Linked DNA regions of Homo sapiens. The protein of the gene in region 3 purifies or fractionates together with the protein of the main gene of each other region. This does not show direct contact. Each region holds a gene or a part of one and is shown on either strand. Other genes may lie near its edges. The genes, in order: C1GALT1, USP32 and CX3CL1.

Evidence for each region.
Region 1: the proteins of CX3CL1 (region 3) and C1GALT1 purify together in Homo sapiens (co-immunoprecipitation; 2 studies listed by BioGRID and IntAct, with this or other methods). This does not show direct contact.
Region 2: the proteins of CX3CL1 (region 3) and USP32 purify together in Homo sapiens (co-immunoprecipitation; 2 studies listed by BioGRID and IntAct, with this or other methods). This does not show direct contact.

The regions. Positions count from the first base shown.
Region 1 is NC_000007.14:7,180,520-7,184,265, reverse strand, and holds the start of C1GALT1 (glycoprotein-N-acetylgalactosamine 3-beta-galactosyltransferase 1), read right to left. Parts: upstream 1,723-3,746; 5' UTR 1,446-1,722; exon of another isoform or gene 871-1,445; intron 841-870; exon of another isoform or gene 672-840; intron 1-671. UniProt on the Homo sapiens protein: Glycosyltransferase that generates the core 1 O-glycan Gal-beta1-3GalNAc-alpha1-Ser/Thr (T antigen), which is a precursor for many extended O-glycans in glycoproteins.
Region 2 is NC_000017.11:60,390,057-60,393,802, forward strand, and holds the start of USP32 (ubiquitin carboxyl-terminal hydrolase 32), read right to left. Parts: upstream 2,078-3,746; 5' UTR 1,884-2,077; coding exon 1,826-1,883; intron 1,572-1,825; exon of another isoform or gene 1-1,571. UniProt on the Homo sapiens protein: Deubiquitinase that can remove conjugated ubiquitin from target proteins, such as RAB7A and LAMTOR1.
Region 3 is NC_000016.10:57,370,085-57,373,830, reverse strand, and holds the start of CX3CL1 (fractalkine isoform 1 precursor), read right to left. Parts: upstream 1,342-3,746; 5' UTR 1,263-1,341; coding exon 1,193-1,262; intron 1-1,192. UniProt on the Homo sapiens protein: Chemokine that acts as a ligand for both CX3CR1 and integrins ITGAV:ITGB3 and ITGA4:ITGB1. The CX3CR1-CX3CL1 signaling exerts distinct functions in different tissue compartments, such as immune response, inflammation, cell adhesion and chemotaxis.

The DNA.
Region 1 (3,746 bases), on a different chromosome or scaffold from region 3:
AGTCATACTTTCCTTACTAAGTCATTGTTTCACTTACCATAAGGTGAAGAGTTAACTGTTTGCTAACTTGAAACTTTATATTCACTTAAACTGTACATCTATATATAAAGACTGGTAGAAAGTATAGTGTACTATATACAATATTTAGAACATACAGCATCATGGGCATTAAGCTCAACTGCCATTTACCTAAGAGGGTGAAAAGCTGTCATCTAAATACCTTCTAAAAACTCGGATTCCAACTTCCCAAACTCACACCAGAATGAAGCAACTTGAAATTATGCGCACTTTTTCCTGGCAGAGCTATGTTCTATGCCCAACTTTTAGTAAGTTAACATATTTCTCTCCCTTACACATCGGCCAATTATTCATTGATTCATTATGGTTCTAAATTTATAACTTTTAAATTCATAATGAAATCAATCCATGGTTAGCACAATAGTTTTCTATCTTAAAAAAGCGTTAAAAGGAAATACAGTAGTATGTACAATGGATATAGAGAACTAGGTTAGAAATCTTGAGAATTTTTCCAGGATGTGTGGGTTTTTTGTTGCTGATACTGTTGTTTGCTTTAAATGCGGGGTGGTGGGGGGTGGGGAGACGGTAAGGACCAGGAAAGAATAAATCCACAGCGCTAAATTATGGTCATCTTTTAAGAGTGTACGACTTACCCAAATTCAAAGCAAATGGACAACTTGTCAACACCTACTAATTCCATCACAATTTGTTGGGGAAAAATGGGGTGCAGAAGCAAAAAAAAAAAATTTAATGCCTTTCTTCCTCCTCCATGCCCCGAATGCCCCAACACACACGTATCTGCTTCACTCTGCGGCAGGGAAACTTAAAGAAATAAATCAGCTACAGACAAACCTGATGATCCAAGCTAGACCCAAGCAAGCTCCAGGCACCTCTGGAAGGAGCCCGCTCGCTGGGCGCTCAGGCGGCGCGGCAGCCGAGTGGCTCCCCGGCGAAGGTGCCCAACACCTGGGCGCCCAGTCCGGCGGGACCCACAGGTCTGCGGCGGGGCGGGGAGGGCCCGGGAGGAGGGACTGGGAGGGCCCGGCGGGGCAGGACCGCTAAGTGGTCCGGTCCGGGCGCACTGCGCGCCCCGCCGCGCCGCCAGGCAGCGCGCGAGCAGAAGAGGGGCGCGAGCGGGCACAAGGGAAGGACCCACGACGAAGAGGAGGGTACATGTCCACAAAATTGAGGCCGGGTACGCAGCCGAACGCTGTGGCAGATCGCTAAGGCTCCGGGAGCGGGAAGTCCTCGCGCCTTCCTCAGGAGCCCGGACGACCCCAGCCCGGCTTTGACCCCGAGACACCTGTTCCGCCGCGCCCGGGGTTTGGTTCCATCCTCCACGCTTCCCCACCAACCCGGAGAGGGGGGAGGGCGAGGGGAGACGAGACCTTGGACCCGTAGCCTGAGGGCGCCTCCGCCGGCCATACCTGACATCAGCTGCGGCTCCCTCTCGCCCCTCCTGGGGGGCGGAGAGGGGGACGACTTGGGACTGGTGACCTTTGCTTCTCTGGGCAGCCGCAGAAGTGGCTCGTGGCCGCTAGCCGAGGCCGCCCGCTGCCGCCCAGATTATTCCCCGGCAGCGGCAGCACAGCGGCGGCGGCCAAGGCGGGCCCAGCGCGCGCTCCCGCCCGCTCGCTCCGCCCCTCCCCGCAGCGCGTCCAGGCCGTGGCCCGCCTATGGCGCAGCCGCCACCCGAAGTCTCCTGGCGCTGACGTCTCCGCCGCCGCACCAGCCCCAGGGAAGGGCGGAGCGGGAGGGGCGGTGGGCGGGGATACGGCGACGTGAGGAAGCGGGGATTGGCTGCCGGGTGCACGCTCCGCCCTAATGCGAAGGGGTCTGGGAAGTCGGATCTTGCACGAGCAGTAGATTTTGTTGTATCCCCCTTGCGGCTTGTGTCTGCTACTCTCCGCATTTCTGATCCTGCTGTAAGGTTATGCACTAGCTTCAAGACCTTGAGCGGGACGAAAGCAGGGTAACAATAGGGAGCGAGAAAGGGGATGCTTGAAGGACCTTTGTCTGAGGTACAGGCTCTAACCCTGCAGGACTCTTGTGGCCTGTAGCCTGCTCTTAACCCGTTCATTTGTTTTTCTGTTCTCTCCCCGTGCTCTCTTTACTCAGTATCTCTCTGGGCTTAATAAAAGGAAGTAATAAGATGAAGTATGCATACGGGTGCTGGGTCATCATGTGAGAACCAGGAAGAGCTGAGAACCGAGATAATGATACCAGAAAGCTTTCTATAGGCACATTTCGTCTTTGGTTCTGTCAGCACTTCGGTTCTGTGGGGCAATGGCCGGAAGAGCTTCTTAGGGGCGTAACAAAACCTATCTCCCCTTTCGCTGGGCTCTGAATAAGGAAGTTGTCTTTGGAATAGGGGGAGGAGGCTGCCACCTGTTGAGGCAACCCCACAATAGTCATGAGGTGAGGGTAAGGTTTAGTCTTTACTGGCGTTAACCATTATCTACAAGACCACGTTCCAGAATAGGAAAGCTACCCTGCTTCCTTTAAATGCCCTATCCAAGCGGTTCTTTAGTACTCTACAGCATGGTTGTTAAAGAGTATGGGCTCTGAAATCAGACTGCCCGGGCTGGCATCTTGGTCCCTCCACCTATTGGCAAGTTACTTAGAATGCCTGAGACAAATAATAATATACATTAGTTATTGTTATTTTTCCTTTAATTTGCTTAGGTTCAGCTGTAGTGTAGTTTCTCAGGACATTGCATCAATATATCCAAAAGAATTGTGAAACATAAAGCACATGTAGTGATTCTAATACAGATGTCTCATTTTTCAGATGACAAAACTAAGGCCAGAAAGATAAACTGATAGGTCCATGTTAGAAGAGAAGTGCAGCTATCCTGATGTCCAGGTTATTGCTCTTTCCTTGGCTCATGGGTCCAGACTTCTCTGCCTTACATGATTACGTCCATTCTCTACTCCTCCCCAACTTGTATACAGTTGTTGCTCAGCCTCCTCCCCCTCCACCTTTCCGCAATATCCTTCCACCTTTCCGCAATATCCTTCCACCTTTCCGCAACATCCTTCCACCTTTCCGCAATGTCTTGCCATCCATTGTGAAACATGGAAGGAGAACTCTTTCAGGGGTCAGTGTTCCAAATAGAAACCAAAACTCACAACTCCTTATCTCGTTTTAATTTTATTAAAAGTTATAATTAATAAAGAATAACACTTTTTTCCATTGAGCAAAGATTAGAACCCTTTCCTAAAATAAGGTCAGCCACAGCCTTATCCTGGAAAATTACTTGCTAGAAACAATACTGGACCAAATCAGCCCTGCCCCCACCCTGCCTTTCTTTGAAAATAGCTTTTTTTTTTTTTTGAAGAGATATGGTCTTTCTATGTTGCCCAGGCTGGAATGCAGTGGCTATTCACAGGTGTGATCTTGGCACACAACAGCCTCGAATAACTGGGCTGAAGGCTGAAGCAATCTTCCCGCCTTAGCCTCCCCAGTAGTTGGGATTACAGGCACAGGCTGTGGCACCCAGCTAATAACTATTGTTTTATAAAAACAATACATGCTTATGCAAACAAATTTAAAAAATTTAAACAAAAATGCAAAGAAGTTAAAATCTGTCCAAATACCATAATATAGAGATAACCATTTCTTAAATTTTGTGTTACATTCTTCTAGGCATCTCTCTAAGAATAAAAGCACATATAGACATATAAATACAATATTTCATAAATTGGATCGTATTATCTGCACAGTG
Region 2 (3,746 bases), on a different chromosome or scaffold from region 3:
TCTTAACAAAGATTTTGCTATCTCTTCAAATACATGTGTTTTAAAATTCAACAGGCAGACACTGTATAAGAAATTAAACAAAAACCTTCCAGTCAGATCAGTTTAAAATGCAATTAACTTCATTTGTATTTACAAACGTACCATCTTAGTTTGATAGGAGATTAAGCAGGCTAGAGCTGAATACAAGTTTAATTTTGGAATTTCTCAATGCCAGGTACATCACTAGTATTCACACCCTCAAACTTAAGAAACACTTCTGAACCTTGAAGCTGTAAATCAGTTTGACTAATGTCCTCTTTCATGCCATGTAAGCCATTGCCTAATTGAGGCCAGACCTGTCAGGCTCAACAGCATCCCGGAAATGACTAGCCTACTAGGGCTGGAAACACATCAAGAATTTGGAATATTTCTCATATTGGGGCAGACAAAAAAAGTTCAAATGAGATTGTCCATAAAAACAATTATTATACTGTTCCACAAGGGAAAAAGAAAGAAAGACATAAAAGGCATATCTGTGTTATTCTGGTAAATCCACCACCACCAATACATCTCAATTCTGTATCTTACTGTCAGGTGATGGTCAACTGAACTTACCCACTTACCCCTCTTCTTCCTATATACGAACAAGAGTTCACTTCTCAAGCCTCATTTTGAATACCCGTCTTTTAATCTAATTACCATTTTATATCCTTAGCTACTAAAACCACCTGGAGCATGGCTGATTTCTTGACTTGGAAACCTGTTAACAATAATGCCTAGCTCCTAATCTTCTTAATGTTTTTTCACTTCTTACCAAGAATATCCATTAAATGTCTAAAAGAAATACAAGCATACACAGATCTACACACACTGAAATCCCAGTCATGAAAAATTAAGACATTCCGGCCATAAACTGTGCAACAAGACACTTCCAGTTAGTGTGTGCTTTAGTGATCATGGACAGCGGTATCAGAGTGAGTGGTAGGGGGTTGGGGCTGCCAACAATATACTGTGCCTCAGAGCCAATAAGCAGCAGGCCGGGACTGGCAGCCAGGCCAGTCTCTAAAGGGAGATTTAACACAATATCTGAATGCTGGACTTCCCAATGCCATTTCATGGAGAGGGATGGAGCGAGAACTGGGCATCAAGTGCAGTCAAAGGCTTTGGTCAACGTCGGAGGAGATGAAACCTAAGACAAGGTCTGGTGCCAACGCCAGCTGTCCAGTCTCATCTCACCTCAAACACAACTTCATTTCAGATCGTTCTTATCAAAGTCAGCCGCTCAAACGGTGAAGGGTGGCAGAAGCGGATGGCCACAGCCCTCAAGAGACAGGCATAGGCTCTGGGAAAAGGCAGGGACTCCCCAGATACGAAGGGGCTTCCAGTAGCAGAGAGGAGCGCTTTGCAGCCGCCTCCTCGTCCCCTTCCAGCTAAGGCTGTTAGGAACGAGGTTAGGATGTTATTTGAGGTTTTTATGAAGGAATGATAGGAGAAAATGGCAATGAAGGATGAGGGGGGCTGGATGGGCTGGAGCCGCCCAAGAAAACGGGGAGAGGACTTCCCTGGACACATCCAGGATCACAACGCCACCAGCGAGCACGGGCACTGCCCTGCCAGCGCCGATCCCCCTCTCTCAGGACAAGCCCCTTTCCAAACGGCCCTAATTCCCAAACGCTGCTTCCCACCCGACCTCTCTCCTCCACCACACTCCCCAAGGCCGGCCGCCTTTCCCTTCCGCCTCAGGCGCCCCACGCCCTCAATCTCCCCTCTCCCTCCCGGTTACCCACCCTCCAGGCTGCCCGTCGCGGGCCTCCCAGGCAGCTCGCCCAGACCCCTCCCCCCTCACCTCTCCTCAGCGCCTCCTCGTAGCTGAGGAATCCGATCCGTGACTCCTTGGCACCCATGCTCCCCTCATCCCCTCGGCGGGGGGTCGGAGCCTGATCTCGCCCCCACCCCCCTCCCGCCTTCTCCTCGGCGTCCCTGGGTGACGGTGACGGTGTCGGCGTCCCCCGCCCCCACCTCCCCCCACACTAACAAGTGCGGCTTCTGCCCCGGCGGCTCCTCCCGGTCGCCGCCACCGCCTCCATGCCGGATCACGTGACTCTTCCGCCCCGCCCCCTTCCCCTGCCTCCTACTCCGCCCTTCTCTCTCCTCTCTCTCCTCCCTCTCCTTCCCTCCTCACGCCCTCTTGCCACTTCCGCCCCCTCCCGCCAGCTCCGCCGAGGGTCACGGGACCCGAGGCCAGACACTGTTCCCGGTAACGGCCGCCCAGGGCCGCACGCTCCGCCCCTCCCCAAGCTAACCGCGCGCAGGAGCGCCGGGGAGGGGGACGCATCTCCGCACGTAACGCATCGTCCCATCTTCCCGCCAATCGCAGCCGCGCGCCCCGCCCGGGCGCCTCCGCTGGCGACGGGGGGTGGTGACTTCCGGGGCGCTTGAGGACGACCCCCCCCGCCCCCGCGCCCACATGTTCTGGCGTTCGGCGGGTGGGGTCCGAGCAGCTGACGGTTAGTGTGGCAGTTGCCGGGACCTAACATGGAAGACCGCAGAATCTTAGGGAATGGGGTTCTGAGGGATGCGGCATATGGCTCAGAAGAGAAAGGAGTGGGTAGGCAGGGAGCTCCCAACCTTAGGGACGTCTTTGACTGGGAGGGCGTTGTGAAAGGAAAGGAGAATCTCAAGGCTTTCCTGTGACAAAAGAATGCTCACACCTAGCGGGAGATCCCTGAGGAAAGTGGACCTTGTTAACGAAGTGGATCTGCCTTTTCGGGTCATCTCGCCTGCCCGGCCCACCTTCTCCTCCTGACCATGCCTCTTGTACACATTCTCTGGAAAGCGCTGTGCAAAAGGCTTATCCTCTCTCCCAGAGTTTCTCCCCGAGAAACATGAGGGCTACAAGGCTTAGCGTGGAGTCGTTTTAATCTGTGGTAAAATATACGTAACAAAATGTACCATTTTCACAATTTCTAAGTGAGTTCAGTGGCGTTAAGAACATTGATATTGTTTTGCATCCATTGCCACGTCCCATTTCCCACCGTTTTTCATCTTGCAAAAGGGAAACTCTGTGCCTATTAAACGGTAACTCCCCAATCCCCCTCCCACTGGTCCGTGGCAACCGCTGTCCTACTATCAATTTCACTACTCTTAAGTATTTCCTCTGAGTGGAACTCTGCAGACTTTCTCTTTTGTGACTGGCTTATTTCACTTGGCATCGTGCCTTCCAGGTTCATGGTGTGGCAGCATGTGACTGACTCTCCCACTCCACCTCTCCATTTCCCAAAGAATGAAAAGCAGGGATGTGAACAGGTATTTGTGCCCCCGTGTTTATAGCAGCATTATTCACGAGAGCCAAAAGGTGAACACAACCTATAGGAAACCATAAATGGAGAAACCAAATGGGGTGTATATGTACAGTGGAATTATTATTTAGTTCCTTGATTTTCAACTCTTATTTAGTTTGCGTCTTCAACCTAAAAGTCACGGAATAAAGCTTCTGGAAAAGGAAGCAATATTGAAAAAGTAACCATTTGGATTAGATTGGACCCAAGGTGCCGGTTAGGTAATTTAGGGCCAGGGAAAGGTTATTAGTTCCTAAAACCAACAGATTCTAATATACCCTGCTAGAGAAAGAAGGTAATATTCTGTGTTTTTCTTTTTTTTTTTTTTGAGACGGAGTTTCACCCCTGTTGCCCAGGCTGGAGTGCAATGGCGCGATCTCGACTCACCGCAACCTCTGCCTCTCTGGTTCAAGCGACTCTCCTGCCTCA
Region 3 (3,746 bases):
AACTGGGACCAGAGGAGGCAAGACCCTGCTCACGGTCACATAACAGGACTGTGGCAAAGCAGCCGCCATCTGACTCCCTGCTTTCCAGATCTCACTGTCCGCAGACACCTCAGGCTTCAGGGCCCCAGCCCAGACAGCAGGAAGCCAGCAGGAATTTGCCTCCACCACTCTCACGTGCCCACCCACCCACACACCTGCTCCCTGCCCCAGGGTGAGTTTGCTCCATGGAAATATCTGGACAGTGGGGACTACTTCTCATTCTCCCAGACTTGCTGTGTGCCCACCTTCTCTGAAGGTCACCCTGCCAGATGGTGGGGGCACTCCCTGAGGAGGGGGCTGGCTAGCGGTTCATGGAGGTGATGTGGCCCACAGAGGTGGTGAGTGTGCATCTGTGCTCTCTCCTGCATTCAGTCCCATGTGTCTTACCTTCTCCTGCCCTACTTGCTGGCTGTGCATTGTCAGGCCAGTTTCTAAACCTCTCTGGGCCTCCATCTTATCCATATCAGGTAGGATGGTTAATTATGTACCCCTACCAGGTCCTGGGCTTCAGTAAGCAAGTGACTAGAGGCAAAAGCATTTTCTACACTGTGCTTGGAGGAGGAAGACAGCATGACGGGTAGACACAGGCAGAGCAACTGGGGCTATAGACTAGCACAGCAGTGGCAAGCCCCAACCATGAGCTGCAGTGACCTTGACCTTCACTGGTCCTGGGCCCCCTAATCCTGGGGGCTTTGAAAACAGGACAGGAGAAAGTCCCAACTGTGGCCTGGCCCAGGGCCAGGGCTGCGGGTTACACATTAACGCTTGATGGAAAGAGCCAGCCACTGTCAGCCAGGGCCTCCCACCCCAGTGCCCAGCAGGAGCTTCTGCAGGCTCTCTCCACCCCCGCCCTCCTGGCACACCCACACCTGGCTCCCTTATGCCACCCACACCACCTCTCTGTGCTTCCAGGCACAGCCACTTTGCTCGCTGGGCCAGGCAGGGCGGTCGCTGGCAACTGGAAATCTGTCCAGCGCTGCATCTGGGGGAAGCGAGGTGCCCAGCCCCCTCTCGCACATCCCTGGGGAAGCGGCTGCCACCGGCCTTGAGCTTTACCCAGGCAGGGTCTGGGGCCCCTGATGTCAGGCTTGAGGGATAGACAAGGGGCTGGGGGCTCCCTACCCTGTTTGTGCCCAAGTCAAGCCCCACTTACCAGCCAGCAGGACAGTCAGATGGCAGAAGGTGGCCAAGCGGAGCAGCCACGACAGAGATATCGGAGCCATGGCTGAGGGTGGGCAAGAGTCCCGGCGGGGGCCAGGCAGGCGGCTAGAGCCAGGCGGCAGAGCTCAGTGCTGTCCCCTTGCCGCCGCCAGAGATCTGTGGCTTTTTATAATGGGGTTGGCTGCCTCCGCCTCCAGCCCCCGCAGGCAGGAGGGTGGGAGGGGAGAGGAAGGGAGCCAGTGTGCAGCCGCTGGATTCCTCAGGATGTTGCCAAGGAACCAAGCCGGCTTTGTGTCCCTGGGCTTCTCACCATCCTAGGCTTGTCATACTGGGACCTTCCCCGGGAGGCTGGACTGGGCCTGCCTGGGTACAAAGGCCTCCTCTCCTGCCACAAGCTGGGAACATGCCCTAGGATCTGGCCTGGGGCCCTTGATCCTAAGTGGGCAACACACAAAAGGCCAGCAGGCCGTGGAATAGAGAGCGGGGCGCCAAGGGGCCGGGAGAGACTCAGGGCCCCTCCATCCTGGGTCTGACAAGCTCTTCTTTGATCCAGAGAATGCCTCGCCCACATCAGGATGGACCCCTAAATTTCCCCTCTTAGAATCCCAAGCTCCTGGGGGACCTTGTTGATCTATGCATCTCCAGAGCCCAGCAGGGAGCCTGAAGTCAGCAGGGGCTTGGTGCAGGGTCTGCTGAAAGAAGGATTGAGTCCAACTTCATATGGATAGATGGGGAAACTGAGGCCCGGAGCCACCCCAGGTTATCCACAGCATCAGAGTGGAGAACTCCCCTCCCACCACCATGATGAGCAGAATGTGGACAGCTCAGGACCCAGGAGAGAGCCCTGGCCTCCCTGCCTCCACCTCCCGGTCTCCCGCTCCCTGCTTTGCACCCACTCCCACCTCTGCTCTGGCCCCTGTTAGCCCAAAGAACAAGGTGGCTGCCAACCCATCCCCGATAACTCTGTGGCTCTTGGCTCCTCAACTCTGTAGCCGTGGCTTGGATAAGGCTTGCCTCTCGTGGGGCCTGAGTTCTCTATCTGCCCAAAGAGAGCATTGGGCTAGTGCAATGGGGAGAGGGCTTCCCAGCACCGGCCCTCCAACAGGCTCTCACCGAAGGGTGCAGAGGCTTGCCAGCCTTGGGAGCACATTAGAACACAGTCTGCCTTCATGGCAGCCTTCCCTAAAGGCAGTGGCAACAATCCCTGAGACTCCAGAAGAGTCAGCAGCTCTGCCTTGGTATAGGACTGAGCTGTACTGGTGTCTCCAGGCTGCCAATCTGAGGGAAACCAGTTGTGGAGCCAGCATCCCACGCTATGAGCCAGTTGGGCTGGGCAGAGGGGCCACAGATCCCAAGGCCAGGGACCTCTCTCTCCTCAACCACCCCCCCCCGCCCCCCCACCCAACCCAATGGGCTGCCTGGTGCATGGGGTTAGGGGTTAGGAGGCTAGATACTTCTTGAAGTAGCGGAACACCCTTGGCAGGAGCCAAGGTCCACTCATGCTCAGAGAATCTGTCCTGGCCTGTGCACATGGGAAGCTAGTAGCCTTCTCATTCCCAATGTCCAATCCCTCTTTTTATAACTGGTGAAACTGAGGCCCAGAGAGGGACAAGGAGGGATAAAAACTGAGGTCGTGTTCTTTCTGCTCTGTTCATGTAAGAACAGAGGAGGAGGCCGAGTGCGATGGCTCACGCCTGTAATCCCAGCACTTTGGGAGGCTGAGGTGGGTGGATCACCTGAGGTCAGGAGTTCGAGGCCAGCCTGGCCAACACGGTGAAACCTCGTCTCTACTAAAAATACAAAAATTAGCTGGGTGTGGTGCACACCTGTAATCCCAGCTACTTGGGAGGCTGAGGCAGGAGAATCGCTTGAACCTGGGAGGCAGAGGGTTGCAGTGAGCCAAGATCACGCCACTGCACTCTAGCCTGGGTGACAGAGTGAGACTCTGTCTAAAAAAAAAAAAAAAAAAAGACATTTTCTTAGGTTCACCAGCCAGGAAATGAGGGATCCTGGATTCGTCCCAGCCAGCTGGCTCTGAGGTCTGAGCTCAAGACCAGTAGGGTCCACCACCTGCCTCCACCCTCACTGCGAGGACCAATGTGAAGACTAAGTGAGTTTATGTCCATAGGGTACGGGACAGAGCCTGGCATAAAATAGAAGCGAAAATGCAAAGCACGGCTCTGCTTTTCCTCATTTGACCCTTTGGACACCCTCTACCCTCCCCAGGTCCAGCTTCTACTCCCATAAAATGGGAATGATCACCCCCATCTATCTCATTAGGATGTTAAGAACTGAATTTAGATTTAATTTGGACACAATAACCAGGCTTTCAGGCTAGCCAGACCCAAGGCTAAACAGGACTCCAGGCCGGATGTGGTGGCTCACACCTGTAATCCCAGCACTTTGGGAGGCCGAGGCAGGAGGCAGAGGCAGATTCCCGGGAATCTGAGACCAGCCTGGCAAAACCCCCTCTCTACAAACATGGTGAAACCCCCTCCCTACAAAAAATATACGAAAATTAGTGTGGTGGCCTGTGCCTGCAGTCC